Linked DNA regions of Homo sapiens: region 2 is linked to region 1. Evidence: fine-mapped expression QTL. A gene starts in region 1. The other region holds a variant in brackets. All regions are shown on one strand. Distances are between the middles of the regions. Region 1 holds the start of LINC01594 (long intergenic non-protein coding RNA 1594). Region 2 holds the start of SULT1C2 (sulfotransferase family 1C member 2).

Region 1 (5,388 bases):
TTGTGTACCTGTCCAATGAACACACTATCCTTTCAGTGAGGACAGAGTGTTATCTGCCCTCAGGAACACTCTGCACCTTAGACTTGGTCCAAGTCTCCCTGGGACAAGCCTTATCTGTAAATCTATAATATTTATAATGATAATTTATAGTTGAAGGCCTGTGATAGGCAGAATGATGGCCCCGGAAGATATCCATATCCTAGTCACCAGAACCTGTGAATATGTTTGTCAGTTTCCTTCAAGTTTACATCTTGAGACTAGGGAGGAAAAAAACATGGCAAAAAGTTTTAAAATGCATTTTGGGGCTAAACTGCTCGGTTTTGAGACTGGTTTGAAGTCTGGTGGAGGCTGGGGCAGAGCTGGAGTCTGGTTTGTTGATAGCTGCATCTAGCAGGAAGTGAGGGGGAATGAGCAGGAAAGACCTTGAGCCATTGACCAGGCCCTTGGTGTTCCTGTGCCACGTGGGCTAACAAGGTCGGAGGGAGGCATAGGACACTGGCCTGTGCTTCAGGAGACTGTCCCAGGCTCTCCACAGGTGCTGCAGCTCTGAGTCCCCTTTCCTCCTCCCTCCCCACAGATTTAGATTAATCTCTTCTCTGAACAAGAGTTTAGATTTTTTTTTCAGATTTGCTGTTTGGCTTCTGTTCACAACCGTTAAAAAGTGTGAGTCATCCATTTAAAACTGACTTAATCAAAGCTTAATTTGTTATATTTCTCAGTGTCTGCCTTGGACAAATCTCTGATTTTACCAAAAGCTGCTATGTTCAAAATCCAACATCCCATACATAAAGTGTTGACTAATTAGTTCTGTCTGTGCAGCAGCTCTCACAGCCAAACCTGGCCCATGGTTAGAATGCATTAAGGGTGAGATATATTTTTTAAGCTGCCATGAGGTTGGAAAAAAGGCCATGATTCTCTGCATTTTCTTATTTTGACGTTGGTGCAATAATGTTGAAATTATTTGCAATTCAGTGTGAGGTACTCATGGCAGTACACGGCGATGGGTGGAAGTATGTTAGTTGAACATTATTATAATATTCGTAAGAATTTAAGCCCATTATTTTCTTGTCTGGTACCTAATTGGACTGCATTTAATTTATTTCTTCATCAATAAGCACTCATATATTATTTCTTGGTTATTTTATTGTTGTCAGTACTGACAACACAATTTACAAAACTTTAAAAATTACATTTAAATAGAAACTTCATTGTTACTTTAAAGACTCATATAATAAATGATAGTCTTCCAGTTTCCATTCAATTCATCAGACGTTTATTAAGCAGCTACCTTGGACCAGATACTGTTCCAAGTTTTTCAGTTTCATCAGTGTTTTACATAGATAGATAGATAGATAGATAGATAGATAGATAGATAGATAGATAGATATAAAATCTGTGCCAATGAGCTGTAATTTTAGCCATAATCTTGGACAAGAAAGTAGTGAATTTATTTCCTTTAAGGACGTGTATTTGTAACTCATTTTTATGCTGTGTCTTTGTGCTGATGATATTTTGCAGTTGTCACAGTGACTTATGAAAAATTCTAAGGGGGAATCAGGCTAGCTCCCTAAGAATCACACTTTTAAACTCATGGTTTTAAAAAGTCTGGCCATTAAGTGCAATGATTAAGGTTAAATTTGTGTACCTTTTACCCAAGAGGTCAAAAGTCAGATTGTCTTCAGAGTCTCACTAATGAACAGCACATTCAATTCATTATGGTGAAAGATGCTTGAATTTTGACCACCACCCCGTCTTTAGACTATTTAGTGTCACTATAAAGGAATAGCTGAGGCTGGGAAATTTATTTTAAAAAATGTTTATTTGGCTCATAATTCTGATGGCTGGAAGACTGGACACGTGGTGAGGGACTCAGACTGCTTCCACTTCTGGCAGAAGGTGAAGGGGGTCAGTGCATCCAAAAATCACATGGTAAGACAGGAAGCAAGAGAAGGGAGTTTCCAGGCTCTTTTTAACAACCAACTCTTGTGGGAAGGAATAGAGCAAGAGCTCACTCACTCCTGGGGAGGGTATTAATCTATTCCTGAGGGGTCTCCCACTATCACCCAAACACCTTCTGTTAGACCCCACCTCCAACATTTAGAATCAGATCTCAACATAAGGTTTGGAAGGGACAAATGTCCAAACCATGGCAATCTCTTTCCCAGGGAATACTCATCCTGTATATTTTTCCATGTGAGATCCAACCATAACCTAGGCATCTCTTGTGAGAAAACAATGCTGGTAGAATTCTGAGATTCAGTCCACTGGATACCTGTGGGAGGCCTTGAATGTTGCCTTTGTAAATCATCTCTAGTTCTGGCCATGTGATTGTTGGGCAATGGGCAGAGGCTGAGAATGGTCTTCCTGGAGCCTCCAATTTAGTGAGCAAAGTGTAGAGTATGTTAGAAGAGATGATACTTGTGATGGAAATGATTAGGGCAGAATAAGGGGAACCAGGAAGTGCTGGATTGTAAGTAGAATGATCAGGGAAGACATGACTGAAATGATGCTTTCTGGGTAAAGATTGAAGGATATGAGGAGAGGGTCATGTAGCTGTTTGATCGAAGAGCATTCTTGGCAGAGGAAATGCCAGGCCAAAGTCTCTATGGCAGGACTACACTAGGTGAGTTCAAGGAAGAGTGGGGAAGTCACTAGGTCTGAAGAGAAGTGAGTGTGCAAAGGTTAGAAGGTGGTTAGAAAGGGACCTGGGGACAGATGGTGTAGGACAGGAGACCGTGATACAATTCAGCTTAGACTGAATGGGTTGGGGCACTGCTGCAGCATTTTGATCAGCACAGTGATGTGATCCATTTAGGATCATATGGTGACTGGGTAATTATGACATAGAAGGAGGGATATTCATTAGGTTGTGATTGCAAGTCTTCAGGGAAGACACGCCAGTGACTCAGAGGAGGTTGGTCACAGTAATGTTGATAAGAAGAGGTCATGTTCTGGATATAGTTTGAAGTCAGAGCCAAATGATGTATGGATTGGATGTAGTGTGCAAGAGAGAGAGAAATAGAATAAGCTTTGGCTGAGCAACTGAAAAGATGGAGTTGCCTTTTAATTGAGATGAAGAAGACAGTGGGTGAATTAGGTTTGTGGGTTTGACTTTTTCTGTTTGAAATGTATATAAAACAAGGAAGTAGAGATATGAAGTAGGCAGTTGGGCTGACAATTTAGGAATTCAGGGTTGAGATCTGAGGTGGAGATAAAAATTTGGAAGATGGTACCATGTTGCAGAAATTTAAAATCCATGTGAGAGAATGAGATTATCTAAGAAGCGAGCCAGAGAAAGAAGAGATAGAAAGCAGAAGTAACATAAAAGCTGTAATACTATTTAAGCCTTTTTCTCTGTTTTTATGATGTTTCTTTTATAAGGATTATTTTTAAAATTTCTTTGCCACATTATTCTAATGAGTCCACTGTCTAGTTTTACGAAAACACATAATAATGTTCCTCAATATCTATATTTCACTATGCCACTCGACCTACCCAGCATTTAAAGGTGCACTTGAGTGTTTATGAAACGTTCTTTTAATCTCCTGCTATATAAAAAGGAAAAAGTCAAAAATATTAACAGCTGATGGACAAAGAAATAAATTACGTATTTGCATGTGGAAATAATAAAGCAACTTAGAACTAAATCACAAAGTTATCTGGGAAGGACATTGAATGTTTTATTGTAAATCTTTAACATAACTCAAAAATTAGTAGTAGTATTGGAGAACATGCAAACCTCATGTTAGTTTACATTTCAAAATCAATTATTCATGTCAGAAACATGTTCAAATTTCTGTGAAAGTTTAGAAGATATGTATCACAAATAAAAGCATTTCAAATGCTCACACAGGATTTTTGGGAGAGAGGAGAGAGAAACCACATTAATTTAAACAAGAAAAGTTTAATACAGAGAATGATTAACTCTAACAAGAGATTGGAGTAACGAGGTGTTGGCAAGTAAGAAGTAAAACTCTGAAGAATATAGGAATATCAAATATAAGGAACAGCCACTATCCCTAGGGCTGAGATAGAGTAAGAGCCTCTTCGAAAAGAACCTGTCTTCCCATGCCCACCAGGACTGAGACCCAGACCTTATGGGAGAGGACGTGGCATGACTCATGGGACAACAGAGAAGCTACTGCGGTTCAATTCTGGAAGAACTTGCTCTACTCTCTGAAACTTGCAGGAAATCCACCCTCTAGGGTGTGGGGAAGGTGTTCACAAGGATGTGTCTCCCTGGAGGCATCCTACTACAAAACCATCCTGGGAGGAAGCTGGGGAAGCACTGGACACCCCCACTGCAGGAGCTGAACCCTGGGGAAGCCATGTGTGCTGCAGGAGTGGGACCTAGAGGAGCTGGCACAGTGGAGAAGAACCACGGGAGCCTGGCCAGTGAAAACCCTGAACCAGGAAGCAAAACTCTTTCCTCCCACAATGTCTCTCCAGTGCTCTCTGCTGACAAGGTTTCAACATCACAGCAGCTGGCAAAGGAAAAATATTGAAAGGGTTCAGATTCAGTTTCGCAGAGAGGGCAGACAGTGAATTTGGACTGAGAAGCAATCAATCGATTACTGGACAGCATGGAAAAATTCGTATGAGTTTGTGTAGTTTTATAAAATTATCAGAGTCTATCAAAAACACATTTTAAAAGTCACACACATCGTTAAATACCAGAGCATTTCAATTACTATCTAAAGTTTTCATTACATTTTTATATTCCAATAAACATGAAATTTCCTGATATTTTGGCATAGTATCAAAGTATTTTGAGTGATCAGACAGAAAATTTAGAAAATTGAAGTATTCCTTTTCTGAAGGAGTGTGTGTGTGTGTGTGTGTGTGTGTGTGTATTCTGTGGTAGTGGAGTAACAACCACAAGGATTACATTTATTTTAAGAATTGTAAAATATACGTAACATATAATTCACTATTATTTTAACTATTTTTAAGTGTACTATTAAGTAGCTTTAAGTACATTCACAACGTTATGTAACCATCATCACTATCCATTTCCAGAACTTTTTCATTATCCCAAACAGAAACTATACTCACTAAAAATGTCTCTATTACCTTCTCCTCCAATCCCTGGTAACTTCTACCTTCTCTCTCCATAAATTTCACTATTCTAGGTGAGTCATAGAATGAGGGAGGTATTTTTCTGTCTCCAATTTTTTGAAGAGTTTGAGAGGGTTTTTGTTCGCATTTAAATGTTCAGTGGAATATGCCACTGAAGCTATCTAGCTCTAGGCTTTTCTTTGTTCTCTTTATTAGCTGTGAGTCTGTTCATATTTTCTATTCTTTCACAAGTCAGTTTAGTATATCGTGTGTTTCTAGGAACTTGTCTATTTCATCTAGGGTATCCAAGTTGTTCATGTACTGTTGTTC
Region 2 (5,388 bases), 71 kb before region 1:
TCCTTCTTTAAAAATTGCCTCTTGTTTTTTTTTATTGTGAATTTAAAGTTATACATTGCAGAAACTTTGGAAACAGTCCAAATGTACAAGGAAAACATCTATCACACAAGAGTTGTTATTATTTTGATGTATTTCTATCTGTCTTTTTCAAATGTATATTGTTGTAGGCAGAATAATGGCCCTAAAGATGTCCACGTCCTAATTCCTAATACATTACATTGTGTGGCAAAGGGCTTTGCAGATGGAATTTAGGTTAAGAACCTTAAGGCAATGAGCATGTCCTGTATTATCCCGGTGGGTCTAATGTGACCACAAGGGCACTTAAAAGTGGACAAGGGTGTAGAAGAGCAGTCAGAGAGTCGTGTGGCAGAAGAAGTGGCTGGAGAGTTTGGAAGCATGAGAATGACTCAACTTGCCATTGATGGCTTAGAGACAAAGGGGAACACAAGACAAGGCATGACCTCCAGAAGCTGAGAATGAACCTCAGCCAACAAGCAAATGGGACCTCCATCCTACAGCCACATGAATCTGAATTCTGCCAACAACCAGAATGAGCTTGGAAGGGATTCTTCTTCAGACCCTCCAGAAGGGAACGCAGCCCTGCCAACACCTTGATTTTACCCAGAGACACCTGTTTGGACTTCTGACTTACAGAGGTGTGAGATAATAAACTTGTATTGTCTTAAGCTGCTAAATTTTTGATAATTTGTTATGGCAGTGATAGTGATAGAAAACTGTTTATACATAGTTATGAACAAAAAGTATACATATATATAAACATAAAACTACAAAACACTTTTTGGATACTGCTGTGGTTTGGATGTGGTTAGTCCCCACCAAAACTCTCTGTTGAAGTTTAACTGCCAGTGTGGCAGTGCTAGGACACGGGGTCTTGTGAGAGGTGTTTGGGCCATAAGGGTGGATTCCACATGAGTAGATTAATGCCATCTCCCAGAAGTGGGTGAGTTTGGTCCCTTTATACATGCCTGCTTGCCTTTCTATTTCTTCACCATGTCTTGATGCAGCATGGCCCTCACGAGAAGCTGAGCAGATGCCAGCACCATGCTCTTGGACTTTTCAGCCACCAGAATCATGATTCAAAATAAACCTCTTATATTTATAAATTACCCAGCCTCAGGTATTTTGTTATAGCAACATAAAATGGACTAAGACGGACATTATCGTGGTTTGAATTGTGTCTCTCTAAGTTCATATGTTGAAGTCCTAATTCATAGTATATTAGCATGTGGCTGTATTTGGAGATAATGTCTTTAAATAGGTGATTAAGTTAAAATGAGGCTGCTAGGATGAGACCTATTCCAATCTGGTATCCTTGTAATGAGAGGAGATTAGGACACACAAGGCAACACCAGGGATGTGTGCACATGGAGGAAAGACCATGTAAGGACACAGTGAGAAGGTCCTCCATAGGGTGGGGGTGAGGGGATGGTGAGTCCAATTCTGGGGTTGAGTCTGATGTATTTATGGGACTTCCCAATGTACACCTGTAGGCAGGTGTACATGTGAGCTTAGGGCTCTGGCCTTGAACTAATGCCCTGAGAATAATCCACGCAACACATTGACCAACTCTGTGGTAGGCGTTGTGCTCTGGGCAGGTAGCTGATGACCGAGGGCCTGGGCACAGCTGTGAACATGTGTGGAAGGGCACCTGCTGCTGCTGAGGACCAGGGCGGTTAAGGGCTTGGCTGTCCAGTGAACTATGGATCCCACTGTATTGCTCTTGTTGGAGGCCTGCACGGGGAGTGATAGAACCTGGCTAAAGCTGGGAGAAGGAGATGCAGCAAGAGATTGAGGCAGCTGGGTAGTGCAGTGGGAGCAGAGGGATCTGCCAGTTCCCACAGGAGAAGTCCCAAGTCCTTCTCACCCTCCCCAGGCCCCTCATTGCTGGGCCACATCAGCACATGGTTCCTGCCCTTGGAGAGTCAGGCATGTAGACACATACATTTCCCCTTGAGCAGCCAGCAGGGACATTTTCATCATATCAGGCCAGATCACTATGGCCTCCTTTGTGGAGGCATCCCTGACTCTGTAAACAGAAGTAATCACTCCTTTCCATGGGATCCTATAGTATTTTGTGTGCAAATTTTATAGGTCTTACTCCACGTCCTACAATTACTTGCTTATAAGTCTGGACCCTTGGAGCACAGGATCTGGTTCAGTCCCCTTGCAGGCCCAGCATGTGTCTTAGTCAATGGCTGGCATAAGAGGAGGGCTGTCATGGAAGAAGAAATAGTCTTGGCCAGAGAAGTTGAGCTGGCCCTGGAGGAGGATGGGACAGGGAGGGTATTTGGGAAAAGATCAGGGTGGGAGACAGAGATAGTATTACAGGAGAGAGAGCTTTTGGAGGTGATTTGAGGGGGGTCCTGAATTTCTAGGTCTGAATTTTTAGGCTGGAGGCTGTTAACAAAACTCTTTTATATTATTTTATCAGATTCTTAGGATCTTTTCTGGTTTGAATAAATGCATCTGTAAAGCCACACCTATGTGGCTAAAGGTTAAAAAATAAATTAACGAGTTAGGTACAGAATTTCTTTTAAGCCATATTCTTACCTTCAAGTTCCAGCTGAAAGTCAGCAGCTCAAAGGCCCACTCAAGGGTCAGTGGGCACGGAAAGGACTTTCACAGGAAGCAGACGGCAATTGCAGAGGCTCAAATTACTACTGTGTCAGAGTTACGGGGGCGCTCAGCAGGTAGCCAGCACTTTGGGAGGCTCTCAGCTTCAGTGTGGGAAGTTGAAGCTTTTACTGGAAGAATCCGGATTGAACAGAAACAAACCCTGTGACCTGGCCCTGGGAGGGAGAACTTCTCACTGTACCATGATCACTCATGTGACCCTGACTGCTGTGCAAATACCAACTCCCTCTAGTTCATATGAACTAAGGGCACACTCTACTCCTCCTCTCGGTCACCAGCTAGAGTTTTTCACATCTTTCCTGGCCCTCAGCTGCCTGGCCCCTCCCTCCTCCCACTGGCCTCGAAGCTTAAACAGGTGGGGGCTGGGGGGAAATGGAAGGTTGGCTCTAGGACCAGATGCATCAGGCTTCAG[G/A]TAGGCTCCTGCTTATTTGGTGAACTCCCTTTTCCTTCCTCCTTAGCCTGAGATTTAATTTCTGCATCTATGAAGTGTGGGTAATACTGCCTGTCTCCAATCCATGCTTTAAGATTGAAAGCAACAATGTTGATGAATACACTTTGCAGAGCAAATAGTAAGTGCTTAAAACTGCTGGTTCTTCTTTCCTTTCTTCCCAAGTTGTATTCATCCACACCGAAAATGCAGAGAGGATAGAACAAAAGTCTAGAGCTTAGGTGTGTACTTATTTTTTCTTTGCCTTATTGTACAAAAGGTACACTTTAGTGGAGGCAGATTATATTCCATGGTGTCTTTGGTTACCTGGGAAATTAAATGGATCAAGTGTTAATGATCTCTGAACTGCTACTCTTCTGCCAGCCCCAACCTTGTATCTACCCCAGTGCTTTCCTTTCTGGAATTGAAGCATAATTCTGCACCCCATCTGCCCTTCTTGCCAAAGCTTTCCTTGTCTTCTTTGACCCTGAACCTCCTAATGCTTCTTTGCCGACACTTCTTCTTCCTCCTTGTTTCCAAAGGGCTCTTTTTTTCCCAATAAATTGAACTTTCTTTTTCTTTCTTTTTTCTTTTTTTTTTTTTTTTTGAGATGGTGTTTCACTCCTGTTGCCCAGGCTGGAGTGCAATGGTGCAATCTTGGCTCACTGCAACCTCCGCCTCCCGGGTTCAAGCGATTCTCCTGTCTCAGCCTCCTGAGTAGCTGGGACTACAGGCGTGCGCCACCATGCCCAGCTAATTTTTTTTTGGTATTTTTAGTAGAGACGGGGTCTCACCATGTTGGCCAGGCTAGTCTCCAACTCCTGCTCCCAGGTGATCTGCCCGCCTTGACCTCCCAAAGTGCTGGGATTACAGGCATAAGCCACTGCGCCCGGCTGAACTTTATTTTTCTACTTCTGCTCTCTTTCCAGTTCCACTTATCCCAGTGCTGTCAATTTTCAGCCCCATAGGGCTGATTCACAGTTCTTAGTGCAACCTCACATTTTCTCTGCAGTTAAAGTCCCTAAGTCTACTAAAGTGTCTGCCAGTATCGGTGCCATGCTGCGCTGCATGCTGCATCTCCCTGCCTTTGCTGTCTGCATGGGTCACAGTCTCTACAATCCCAGAATTTACAGTTAGTAACCACTGCTAGTATCTGCTTCCTCCACATTTGTGGAGGATGAACTGGGATGTTGCACAATCTTCTAGCAGTCTCCTTATTTCTGGTCTCTTCCCTACTAGTCTCTCATACTTTCAGCATATAAATTAAGCTCAGCTCAGATCAGGCTATCCTTTGGTTGTTTATGGCTCAAATTCTGGGTGCTTCCACTTGGAATTCAAGACCTTCTAAATTCATTAATTCTTATTTTTTATAAGACAGGGTCTCACTCTTTTGCCCAGGCTGGAGTGAAGAGGCATGATCATAGCTCACTGCAGCCTTGACCTCCTGAGCTCAAGTGATCCTCCTACTTCAAGCCTCCTGAATGCCTGGCTCAAGGCCTTCTTTAATATAACACCATCCCCACCATGGGCCCCACACACCAGGTGAACTGAATGACTTACTGTCCCCTGTATGCATCCTATAATTTCCTGCCTCCCTGGTTTACTCCTGTTTCTCCCTGCCAAAAATGCTCTTACTCTTAGCCTGGCACACTGCTGTGCACCTGTAATCCCAGTTACTTGAGTCCAGCCTGGGCAACATAGTGAGATCCCATCTCTAAAAAAATGTTCTTACTCTGTTTCCATAGAGTCAGATTCTTCAGCTTTGAACCCATCTTTTCCTTGAAGCCTTTCCTTAGGTTATAGCTGGAAGCAATCTCTCTGTGAACTACCATATGCTTTTTTAAAAATAAGTTTTATTGAGATCAAATTCACATACTGTGCACTTCACCCAAGTGTACAGTTCAATGTTTTTAGTTGTGCAACCATCATCACACTCAATTTTGGAATATTTTCATCACCCCAAAATGAAACCCCATATTTATTAATAGTCATGCCTAATTCCTCCTACCACCATCTCCAGCTTTAAGAAACCAAAATCTACTTTGTGTCTCTATAGACTTGTCTATTGTGGACATTTTATATAAATTGAATCATACAATGTGTGGTCCATAGGATTAATTTGGCCTTCTCTTACAGCAATTTTCTGTTTTTACTTGAATGAGGAAATTAACTACCCTCCCAGTGTGTCGATTGGGGCCTATCTCTAAGACCACCTGTACCATGTACCCATTCAACTGGATTAATATACTTACTGAATGAATAAACAAATGAATGAAACAAAAACTTTAGTTTTCACCGGGACTGGG

The links. PIP is the estimated chance that this variant, and not a neighbour inherited with it, causes the effect.
Region 2: its variant is fine-mapped to the expression of LINC01594 in stomach (GTEx, PIP above 0.99). The same link has a PIP of 0.9 or more in kidney cortex, pituitary and thyroid.

The regions. Positions count from the first base shown.
Region 1 is chr2:108,214,930-108,220,317 of GRCh38, reverse strand. It overlaps LINC01594 (long intergenic non-protein coding RNA 1594), which reads left to right and starts at 2,477. Exons shown (of 5, transcript NR_131251.1): 1 at 2,477-2,623.
Region 2 is chr2:108,286,254-108,291,641 of GRCh38, reverse strand. SULT1C2 (sulfotransferase family 1C member 2) reads right to left here and starts at 2,747. Exons shown (of 8, transcript NM_001056.4): 1 at 2,572-2,747. The variant G/A (reference allele first, on the strand shown) is at 3,068.